Regions from separate parts of the Homo sapiens genome. Here region 2 is linked to region 1. The links come from fine-mapping of genetic effects on gene expression. Tissue or cell type: whole blood. Region 1 holds a variant in brackets; the other region holds the start of a gene. All regions are shown on one strand. Distances are between the middles of the regions.

What was found. PIP is the estimated chance that this variant, and not a neighbour inherited with it, causes the effect.
Region 2: it holds the start of LSM1, and the variant in region 1 is fine-mapped to the expression of LSM1 in whole blood (INTERVAL, PIP 0.96).

Annotation. Positions count from the first base shown.
Region 1 is chr8:38,449,285-38,454,480 of GRCh38, reverse strand. The region is part of intron 2 of FGFR1 (fibroblast growth factor receptor 1); the gene reads left to right. Among named protein-coding and RNA genes, the nearest start is that of FGFR1, 17 kb to the left of the region's middle. RefSeq lists enhancers at 1,053-1,776, 2,501-3,224, 3,225-3,948. The variant GTGTC/C (reference allele first, on the strand shown) is at 2,277.
Region 2 is chr8:38,174,073-38,179,188 of GRCh38, reverse strand. It overlaps LSM1 (LSM1 homolog, mRNA degradation associated), which reads left to right and starts at 2,696. Exons shown (of 4, transcript NM_014462.3): 1 at 2,696-2,914. The coding sequence starts at 2,869. BAG4 (BAG cochaperone 4) reads right to left here and starts at 2,334. Exons shown (of 5, transcript NM_004874.4): 1 at 2,050-2,334. The coding sequence starts at 2,319. RefSeq lists enhancers at 1,392-1,731, 2,642-2,791, 2,013-2,870, 3,202-3,291, 2,871-3,728.

The DNA.
Region 1 (5,196 bases):
AGACTGAGATGAGAGTGTAAAGGGAGTGAGTCAGAGTGGGAGGTTTGAGGGGAGTTTAGATTTGAATCCGCCAATTGTAGACAGCGATAAAGGAGTGGAAGAGTAGCAAGGAGCTAGTTGAGGTTTGAGAATGTGAATTTATAATGGAGCCTAAAGTACTTTCTTTTTTTTGCAGCCCAAGAAGGGAGAAGTGGATCTCGGGCCTGGCTGCTTGTGAGCCAGCCCGACGGGATGAGTATAAGGAACTTTAGGGCCAGGGTGGGGGTGCTAGTAGAGGAGGGGGCTTCACGGAAGCTGCTGGGGCAGGGTGGAGGCTGGAACCTGGGGGCTGAAGATCTTGATGAGGACAAAGTACCGGCCCTGTGAACAGAAGAAAGGGAGTAAGAGAGGTGGATGGGGCTCTTAGGAGCCATGTACCCAGGAAGACTGACATTAAATGACCATTTTTTAAAAATCAACTTAATTTTCAAAGGCACATTGGCTCCCACCTATAATCCCAGTACTGTGGGAGGCAGAGGCAGGAGGATCACTTGAGCCCAGGAGTTTAAGATCAGCTGGGTTTGTTTGTTTGTTGGTTGGTTGGTTTTAAGAGACAGAGTTTCACTCTGTTGCCCAGGCTGGAATGCAGTGGCATGATCTTGGCTTACTGCAACCTCTGCCTCCCAGGTTCAAGCGATTCTCCTGCCTCAGCCTCCTAAGTAGCTGGAATTACAGGTGCTCACCACTATGCCTGGCTAATTTTTATATTTTTAGTAGAGATGGGTTTCACCAGGTTGGCCTTGAACTCCTGACCTCAAGTGATCTGCCCACCTCGGCTTCCCAAAGTGCTGGGACTATAGGTGTGAGCCACCACACCTGGCCAAACCAACTTAATTTAGGTATAACAGTTTGGGCTATTGTAATAAGACTGCTGTGAACCTTCATGTGCAAGCCTGGGTGGGCACACATTTTCCTTGGACTGCCCTGGTTTTGATTTTGGCTCCACACCTTACTGACTGTTGGCTCTTGGGGAAGTTCCTCTTTGTGCCCTTTTATAAAATATATTGATAATGAATGTGTGCTCATAAGGTCATTGTGAATATCAAATAAGCATGTCTGCAGAGCTCATAGGACATTGCCTGGTCCGTAGGCCATGAGCAGTCAATGGCCGTTGTGGGTCCCTTTCCCTGGGCCTCCAGGGGAGACGGCACATGGCGAGGAGCATGTTGTTTCATGGGACACAGCAACGGAAAGCCCCTGCACTTGGAGAACAAGCCCCAGGTCTCTGTTTGGTGGAGTAAGCCCCCGTCTCAGTGTGAGTGTGGTGCTTTCACATAGCCTGTCTCTCATGAGCTTTGTGACAGAACAGAGAACTGCTGTGCCCAGGACATTCTAAGGGGAGATCTGGCTTCATGCTTTGTAAGCTGTAAGGAACCTTGTAAGTGTAAAGTATATTGCATAGTCTTGGGCCTGCTGATTATTAAATAATAATGCTGATATTTTTTAATTAATTAATTAATTTATTTGAGACGGAGTCTCACTCTGTCGCGAGGCTGGAGTGCAGTGGCGTGATCTTGGCTCACTGCAACCTCCACCTCCTGGGTTCAAGCGATTCTTCTGCCTCAGCCTCCCAAGTAGCTGGGATTACAGGCGCGTGCCACCACGCCCAGCTAGTTTTTTTGTATATTTAGTAGAGACGGGGTTTCACCATGTTGGCCAGGATGGTCTCGGTCTCCTGACCTCATGATCTGCCCACCTCGGCCTCCCAAAGTGCTGGGATTACAGGTGTTAGCCACCATGCCTGGCCAATGCTGCTGTTGTCCTAAAAAAAAAATCATAGGGCGAGCACAGTGGCTCACACCTGTAATCCCAGCACTATAGGAGGCCGATGCAGGAGGATTGCACGAGCCCGGGAGTTCCAGACCAGCCTGGGCAACATAGCAAGACCCCATCTCTAAAAATTTTAAAAATTAGCTGGGTAACGTGGCACACATCGGCAGTCCTAGCTATTCAGGAGGCTGAGATGGGAGAATTGCTTGAGAGTTGCTTGAGCCCAGGAGTTGAGGCTACAGTGAGCTATAATCAAGCCACTGCACTCCAGCCTGGGTGTCAGAAGGAGACCCTGTCTTTAAAAAAAAGAAGAAACACATTATAATCTATGTATTAAGGGCTTTGTCCAAAAGGTGAGAGCAAACCACCTAAAACCCTGTTCACACTGAGTTTTCCCCATTTAAAAGGCCTTGCTGTGATTTTAAGTGTGTGTGTGTGTGTGTGTGTGTGTGTGTGTGTGTGTGTGT[GTGTC/C]TGTGTGTCTGTGTGTCTGTCGGGAGCCCCTCCCCACTGAGCGCAGTACCAACGCCCCTCAGTCTGCAAGTGCTCCTGAGGGATTGGGGAGGGCCTGGAGTTTCTGGCTGTCCTTGGAAAGTTGATTTAATAAGGGTTCCAGGAAAACCAGCCTCCCTCCCCTCTCCCTCTCCTTCCCCTCCTTTGGTTTGGGATCTTACAGAGCCTCAGCTTGTTTCAGATCAGGCTTTGAGAGTGGTGAGGGAGTTGTTTGGAAAGACTGAAGCCGGTTTCAGATGATAAGCCCCAACATTCTGAGCTTGCAGAGGGTGCATTTGTCTGTCTTTTGCAATAAGTCAAGTCTTGGTGGGCAAAGCCAGTGAGTGAGTACAACACTGCTTGCAAGGCCACTGCTGGTAGTTGGGGTGGGGGTCCTGCCCCCTTTTCAGCAGTACTGTGGGTTAAACACCCCAGTGCTCAGAAAACCTGCAGCTCAGAAGTGATTTAATGGGCTGAGTTTTACAGCTCCTCCCACCCACCCAGATTTGAAGGAGTCTGGTGGCTTGTTAGAGGGGGGAGAGGTTGCACTTAATGGAAAAACCACACATTTCCATTCTGGCCTCAAGCCCCCTGGATGCCCTGTGTGCACCACAAAGCGGGGCTTTGTCTCTGTGTTTTGCAGAAACCTGCACCTATGGGGGAGAGGCTGTGCGTGGTGCCAGAGCCATTGCCTAGCCTCAGATCATAGGGCCCTTGCAGGTCCTCCATCCCTGGGCGTCTCCAGCTGCCTTTGGCCCAAAGGGGTGTGCGTTTCAGCCTGGCTGCAGGGAGAGTCTCAAATAGGTACTACAGGTTTGGTAGTGGGACACCCTCTGTTCCACTATCAGACCTGTAGTCTAGCATCTACACTGGACTGTGGTCCTGTGTCCCAAGGCTGCCTTGGGACACAGGCAAGACCCTCCCCTACTCCCACCCCATCTCCAGCATGATTTCTTATGATGAAAAGAACTTGTTTGCTTCTCATTCAACCTGGATGGTAAGAGGAGTTTCTTCATCCCCTGCCAGAAGGCGAATGGAATTCCATGGAGCAAAAGGTGATGTCAGATGACCCTCTTGAGAACAAGGGTGGAGGATTTAGGCCTCTAGAAATCTGCAAGGTGCTAAGCTCATAACAGGTTTCCCCAGAGGATCAGCTCTGTCCCACTTCCCCTGGAGAAGTGGCTCCAGTGCCTGGAAGGGGTGTTTGCAAGTGTTCAGAGCTGGACAGGGAGGACCCAGCCCTCGGCCTGTGAGAGAATGTGAGGACGCTCACGTGGCCCTCTTGACCAAGCTGGGGCAAGCGCAGCAAAGCCACTCCGAGGCTGTGTTCTTGGCTCCGGCTTCTGCATTGCTACACCATTAGCTTCACTGATTTTCCACTCTGGCTCTGCCAGGCCCGCTCCCTGAAGTCAGGGAGGAGGAATTTCTCAGGGAAGAACAAATGGCTGTCCAGAGATCTTGCTGCCAGTGGGGGAAGGGAGGGATCCCAAACAAAGACTCTGTCAGGGTTTCCATCACCTGGTTCCTGTGACTACCTGGAGTCGGGTCAGCAGGAACTGGAGAGACAGCATCAGGGATTCTTTGGGAGCCTGTGGCCCCAGCACGGAGGGGTGTTTGCTCCTGGCCAGGCAGAAGCAGTGAGTGATGGCTTGTGTCTGGGCGGTGATGAATGGCCCTGGGAGAAGTGAGTCCTGGGGAGTCATTATCCGGGAGGGCGAGGTCTGGGGTCAGAGAGCCCGACCAGCAGCTGGCCCTATTTTCACAATGCCTCGTTCCTCCGGGGCCACTGGGGGCTCCAGCTCACCCTGTAGACACCACCTTTGCCTCTTTCTTCCTTCCCTGAGGCTTGGAAATGAGACAACTGTTTCCCTGTTGACCGGGGAAGTCCAGCTGCTCTCATTCTCCTGGGCTCCTGAACGGGGCGGCCCAGGCCTTCCTCCTGGGCCTGGCTCTTTCACCAACTTGCAGGCAGGCAATCCCTTCTCCCCACCCACCATACTCCCCAGCCCCACTGCACCCTAAATAATTAAGCTGAAAGCTAACTGCCCTACCTGGATCTGAAGGGCCTGGGCTAAATCCCAAACTGTTTCCTCCTAGGAGAAGCCTGCTGGAGTCTGGGCCACTTCTGACCTTGGGGTTTGCTCTGACTTACAGCTGGTGGCAGCCAAGTAGCAGGGCCAATTGCCCTAACCCCTCCTCCCCGGTAGTGGGCCTGTTGCCTCTTAGCATTGCCAGTGTGGCACCAAGAGACATTGAACTTCTACCCTCAGAGTTCCCTCCCTTCTCCTGTTTCTTGGCTCACAACAGTTCTTGCCTTTCCACTTGCCAAACAGGTATCTACTGCCTTCATGTAAAGCATTTGTGCCCTGCAAACTAGGGGCTGTGGGGTGAGGGCTCCGTGTAGCTGGTTTCAGGCACTGAGAAAGATCCACCCTGGCAGAGCTTGAAACTCCACGCCCTCTCCTCGTTCACATGCTGTGGCGTGGCTGAGCCTCCCGGGATGGGTTGTGTAAAAGGTGGGGTGGGGGCTGTGCCATTTGTGTTCCCAGGCCCTGGACATGGAGACACAGGGAGCCTGAAGTGGGTGAGAGGGTCAAGGAGTTCCGCAAAGAGTAGACTTAGTGGTTACGAGGTTGGGCAGAGAAAGAGGTCAGAAACAGCAACACGGAGGTTTCTAGGAGTTAACCAACAGTGAACATTGAATTCAGAGCTTAGCCCTTCCTCACTTTTCTCTAGGATCAAAAACTAGCTTCTGGCTAATGGTCCATTCATTGACTGATTTTTTTTCACTCATTCATTTATTCATTCATCTAGTCAAGCAAGTCTCTTCCTTTTTCCGTAAATACAATGTATACTTTATACATTGTTTTATCCTAGTCCCTTAGCTGGAAATATCTG
Region 2 (5,116 bases), 280 kb after region 1:
GACTGTGTCCCAAAAATAAAAAATAAAAATAAAAAATAATTTATCACTGCTCCATGTTTTTCTCATACAATTGTTTACACTGTGATATAATCAACATACTATAAACTCTACCCTTTTAAAATGTACAATTCAGTAGTTTTTAGTATATTCAGAGTTGTGCAACCATCACCACTGATTTTAGAACATTTCTTATTTTTTGTTTTTTATTTTTTTATTTTTAGAGACAAGGTCTTACTATGTTGCCCAGGCTGGTCTCGAACTCCTGGACTCAAGCAATCCTCCAGCCTCGGCAACTCAAAGTGCTGGGATTACAGGTGTGAGCCATCTCACCAGGCCCTGATTTTAGAACATTTCATTATCCCAAAAAGAATATTCTCACCTACACCGCCAGTCCCCCAACCTCTGGCAACCATTAAGCTTTCTGTCTCTAGATTTACCTACTCTGGCCATTTCATATAAATGGAATCACACAATATGCAGTCTTTCTGACTGACTTAGCTCACGTAGTGTGATGTTTTCAAGGTTCATTCATATTGTAGCATGCATCAGCAGTTCATTCCTTTCTAAGGCCAAATAATACTCCATTGAATGAATATATTAACACCATATTTTGTTTATCGATGCATCAGTCGTTATGTCCTTACAACATTCCTGTATTCGAATAAAGAACCAGGGCTCCAAGAGGTTCACTCACTTTATAACTCAAATAATAAAATGACATTTGGGGCCGAGCGCAGTGGCTCACGCCTGTAATCCCAACACTTCGGGAGGCCGAGGGGCAGGGGAAAGGGGGATCACTTGAGGTCAGGAGTTCAAGACCATCCTGGCCAACATGGCGAAACCCCGTCTGTACTAAAAATACAAAAATTAGCCGGGTGTGATGGCCGGCGCCTGTAATCCTAGCTACTCGAGAGGCTGAGGCAGGAGAATCGCTTAAACCGGGAGGCGGAGGTTGCAGTGAGCCGAGATGGCACCACTGCACTCCAGCCTGGGCAACAGAGCGAGACTCCAACTCAAAAAAAAAAAAAACAAAAAAAACGACATTTCTACTTTTTGGCGATTATGAATAATGATGCTATGAACATGGGCGGACAAGCTTTATGTGAACATACGTTATCAGTTTTCTTGGGTATATAGCCAGGAGTGGGCTTGCTGGGTCATAGACTAATTCTAATGCTTAATGTTTTGAGGAACTACCAAACTATTTTCCACCATTTTACATCCCCACCAGCAATGTACGAGAATTTCACTATTACATTTTCAACAAATGAGGATAATTCTTGAACGAACAGAGAGGTATGCTGCCACCGCAGAACGACAACCCACTACCCAGAAGACTGTATTAACAAAGCAGAAGTATATGTCCGGCAGGAAAACGGAGAATAAAATGTTGCAGGTCCAAGTGTATTAGGCAAGTGAGTTAACCTCGCAGAGCCCCGGTTCCTTATTCGAAAACAAAAAAAAGGGCCGCTGTAATGCCATTTTACCTTGCAGTCGCCGTGAAAATTAAATCAGTCAATCCGCGTAAAGGTACTTTACAACACTGATTATTCATGATTCGATCTCAGGCAAGGCATTAGGGGCAAACAGCTAAATGCCCAGATCCCTCCTCCTCGCAAAGGTTCCTTCCCCTCGGGAGGGTCCCTGAGCGGCATCGGGGGCTGCAGCCACTTCCCTTCCCCGGGAGAGCCGGCCTGCCAGCCACGCAGGATAAATTGCTAGAGCTGGAGCAGTAGATCCGTGCCACCCCTACCCAGCACCGCTCCCAGGAGAGAGATCTGCAGCCTGCTGCTAAGCTTAGTAAGTCCGCGCAGGATCTTTCTTTTTTAAATGGTAATAAACATATTTTTTGGGGTCGAAGCAGAAAAGGAGGGGCAAAGGGAACACAAGCATGTCCCCCCAACCTCTGATCTTAGTCTCGGTCTCTCCAACACCCCCCGCAACACACCCTCCTCCACATAAGGAAAACAAGTATGAAACCCGATCCTTTACGAACCCCAGCCCCAAGGGCCCTCACCTCCCCGCAAGGACAGAGGGTGCAAAGCTTACCTGGTGGCTTCCTCCGGCTCGACCAGGCTCTGGCCAGGCGCCTCCCGAGGGATAGTAGCCATCGCCTCCTCCGCCTTCTCCCAGCCAGGTGGTCTCCGCCGGGCCGCCCCCGCGCACCCGCCAGGAAATGGGAGGCTGGGGAGGTTCAGGGCGAAGAGGATATAAGGGTGGAGGTGGGTGTACCGGCACATCTCCACCCCCAGGCCCGTAGTAGCGGCCGTAGGACGGACCGTCACTGGGGCCGTAGCCCGAGCGCCTCAGGGCCGACATGGGATCCGCTGCCCTGAAGCGCTTCCCGCCCCGCTCCCCACGGCCGACCCATCGCGCAGGCGCCCGCGGGCGATTGCGAATGGAGAGCAGCGAAGGGGGTCGGACGACGCCAGCCAATCCCAGGCCCGGGCCCGCCCCTTCTGCTGCCGAACCCCGAAAGCTGAGGGACGGAGGTCAGTGACTCTGGGGTCTCGGGAACCCGGAGACGAAGGAAGACACCGTGTTCCTTAAGAGGGAGTATACGTTTCCTCGCCATTTATCCAATGGAGTTTCCTCTTACCTACTTAACAGGAACAGGGAAAGGGTGTCCCCCAACGGTACGGCTGCCCCGCCTCTTCCTGGGGGCCCACACGTGTTACAGGAAGTGGGTAAGGGTAATATGGAGGAGCTTCCGGCAGCCCCCGGCGGCTGAAAGCCGGGGCAGAAGTGCTGGTCTCGGTCGGGATTCCGGGCTTGGTCCCACCGAGGCGGCGACTGCGGTAGGAGGGAAGAGGTTTTGGACGCGCTGGCCTCCCGCCGCTGTGCATTGCAGCATTATTTCAGTTCAAAATGAACTATATGCCTGGCACCGCCAGCCTCATCGAGGACATTGACAGTGAGTAGTTTATCTCCTCCCGGTGGAGCCCGGGGTTAGACCCTTCCTCCCGGGCGGGCGCCTCTTCCGAAGAAGCTTGTAGAATGAGTCCCGGGCGGGGCCGGTGTGTTCTGAGCTCAATCCGGGCGTTCCGCGTCGATGTCCTCCACAGCTGCGGTACACACCGCTTGCCCACCCAGTAGCCTGCTGCTACTTCTGCCCCTCGCAGCCTCCGCCAGCCCTCTAGCTGGTGAGCCCCAAGCGATGGAACTCATTCTTGCTTCCGTGGATCGCGGCAGCAGAGGCCCGAACACGAAAGAAGCCCGGGGAGGGGGGGGGCTTCTCCCCCGTCCACTCCTGCCTGCAGTATTTCGAAGTATCAGCGTGTTACCGGTGGATGGATCGGAATACCTAGAGAGAGGATTCATTAAAAAGCGAAAATATTAAGACAGCGGCAGTTGGACTTAATTGGCAGTAAATGTAGGCGCTCTACGGTGTGGCCATTTGCTAGCTTATTTTACTGTGAGGGTCATTAGCACCTTCAGGTTATTGTAGTAGAGACCACTGTTAGACATGGTATTGACTTTTCTGGAAAGACCAAATCACTTGCAACCTTTTTTTTTTTTTTAAGACAATTTACTTTTGCTTTTACTAAGAAGACCTCCCTTATTCCTGGTTTTTGTCCGGAAGAGGAGCTCAGTCCTATACAAAAGCGAAAAGAACCGTCTGCAGTTGTTCTGGCTTTCCTTTTTTCTAAATTCCGTCTGTGCATTATTCCTCAAGCAACATTTTTTATTGTTTTAATCATGTGATCTTTCTCATTAACTTGTTTCAAGATGATTTACACATAGTTTTAAATAAGTTGCAATCGTCTCAGTTACTCTGTGAATACGCAATTTAGAATCTATGGTTAAAATTTCATTTTACGGGCCTGGCGCGGTGGCTCACGCCTGTAATCCCAGCACTTTGGGGGGCCGAGGCGGGCAGATCGCCTGAGGTCGGGAGTTCAAGACCAGCCTAGCCAACATGGTGAAACCCCGTTCCTACAATTAGCTGGGCACTATGGCGGTGCCTGTAATCCCAGCTACTCGGGAGGCTGAGGCGGGAGAATCGCTTGAACCCGGGAGGAGAAGGTTGCAGTGAGCCGAGATCGCACCATTGCACTCCAGCCTGAGCGACAGAGCAAGACTCCGTCTCAAAAAAAAAAAAAAAATCATTTTATGGTTGACAGATCTTTTTTCTTTTCTTTTCTTTTTTTTTTTTTTTTTTTGAGACAGAGTCTTGCTCTGTCGCCCAGGCTGTAGTGTGCAGTGGCGCGATCTCGACTCACTGGAACCTCCACCTCCCGGGTTTAAACAATTCTTGTGCCTCAGCCTCCCAAGTAACTGGGATTACAGGCGCCTGCCAGCACGCCCAGCTAATTTTTGCATTTTTTGGTAGAGACGAGGTTTCGCCATGCTGGGCAGTCTGGTCTCCAACTCCTGACCTCAGGTGATCCACCCACCTCGGCCTCCCAGAGTACTGGGATTACAGGCGTGAGCCACCGCCTCCGGCCGACAGATCATTTTTTTAAACACAAATTACTTATTGTGCTATGTAAGGGAAATGTAGTGTAATTGGACTAAATATATATTAACATCTATATGAACCTGTTACGTGTAACAGGATGTTTTAGTTGCTCGAGGATGCTCTTTTGCCCTCATCTCTCCTTATATATCCTCTAACACATCCTGCCATTTTACTAAAAATCAGTTTTGCTCTTTGGTCCTCTAACCCCTACCTCTTTGTAGATTCCAGACCCCCTACTTTATGAAAACTTTGAAGCCATTTGATATGCACCCTTTGCTCCCCAACCCTAACACACAGTTTCCTCCTTGTGTTTCTGTATTTTCACCCATCCTTTAATTTGAGTAGGAAGGATTCCTCCCTTTTTGTCTGTCTGTTGTTACTGTCTCCTCTCACTGCTTCTGGAACCTTTTTTCGTTGTTAGCCTTTTTCTTTTATATCCTCTGTCTCCCCAACCCCTGCGTTCTTCCCCTCATGTGTTACTGTCTATCCATCTCAAATATTTTCTCCGTTCTCTTCATATGCCCATCCCTTTTTTCATATCTTTATCCCCAAACCTCGAGTCATTTTCATTTTGTCTGTTTCTTGATCACCTTCAATAGACTACTTACATTACTCCTGCAATCTAATTTTTATCCTGAAATTACTCAAGCTGCA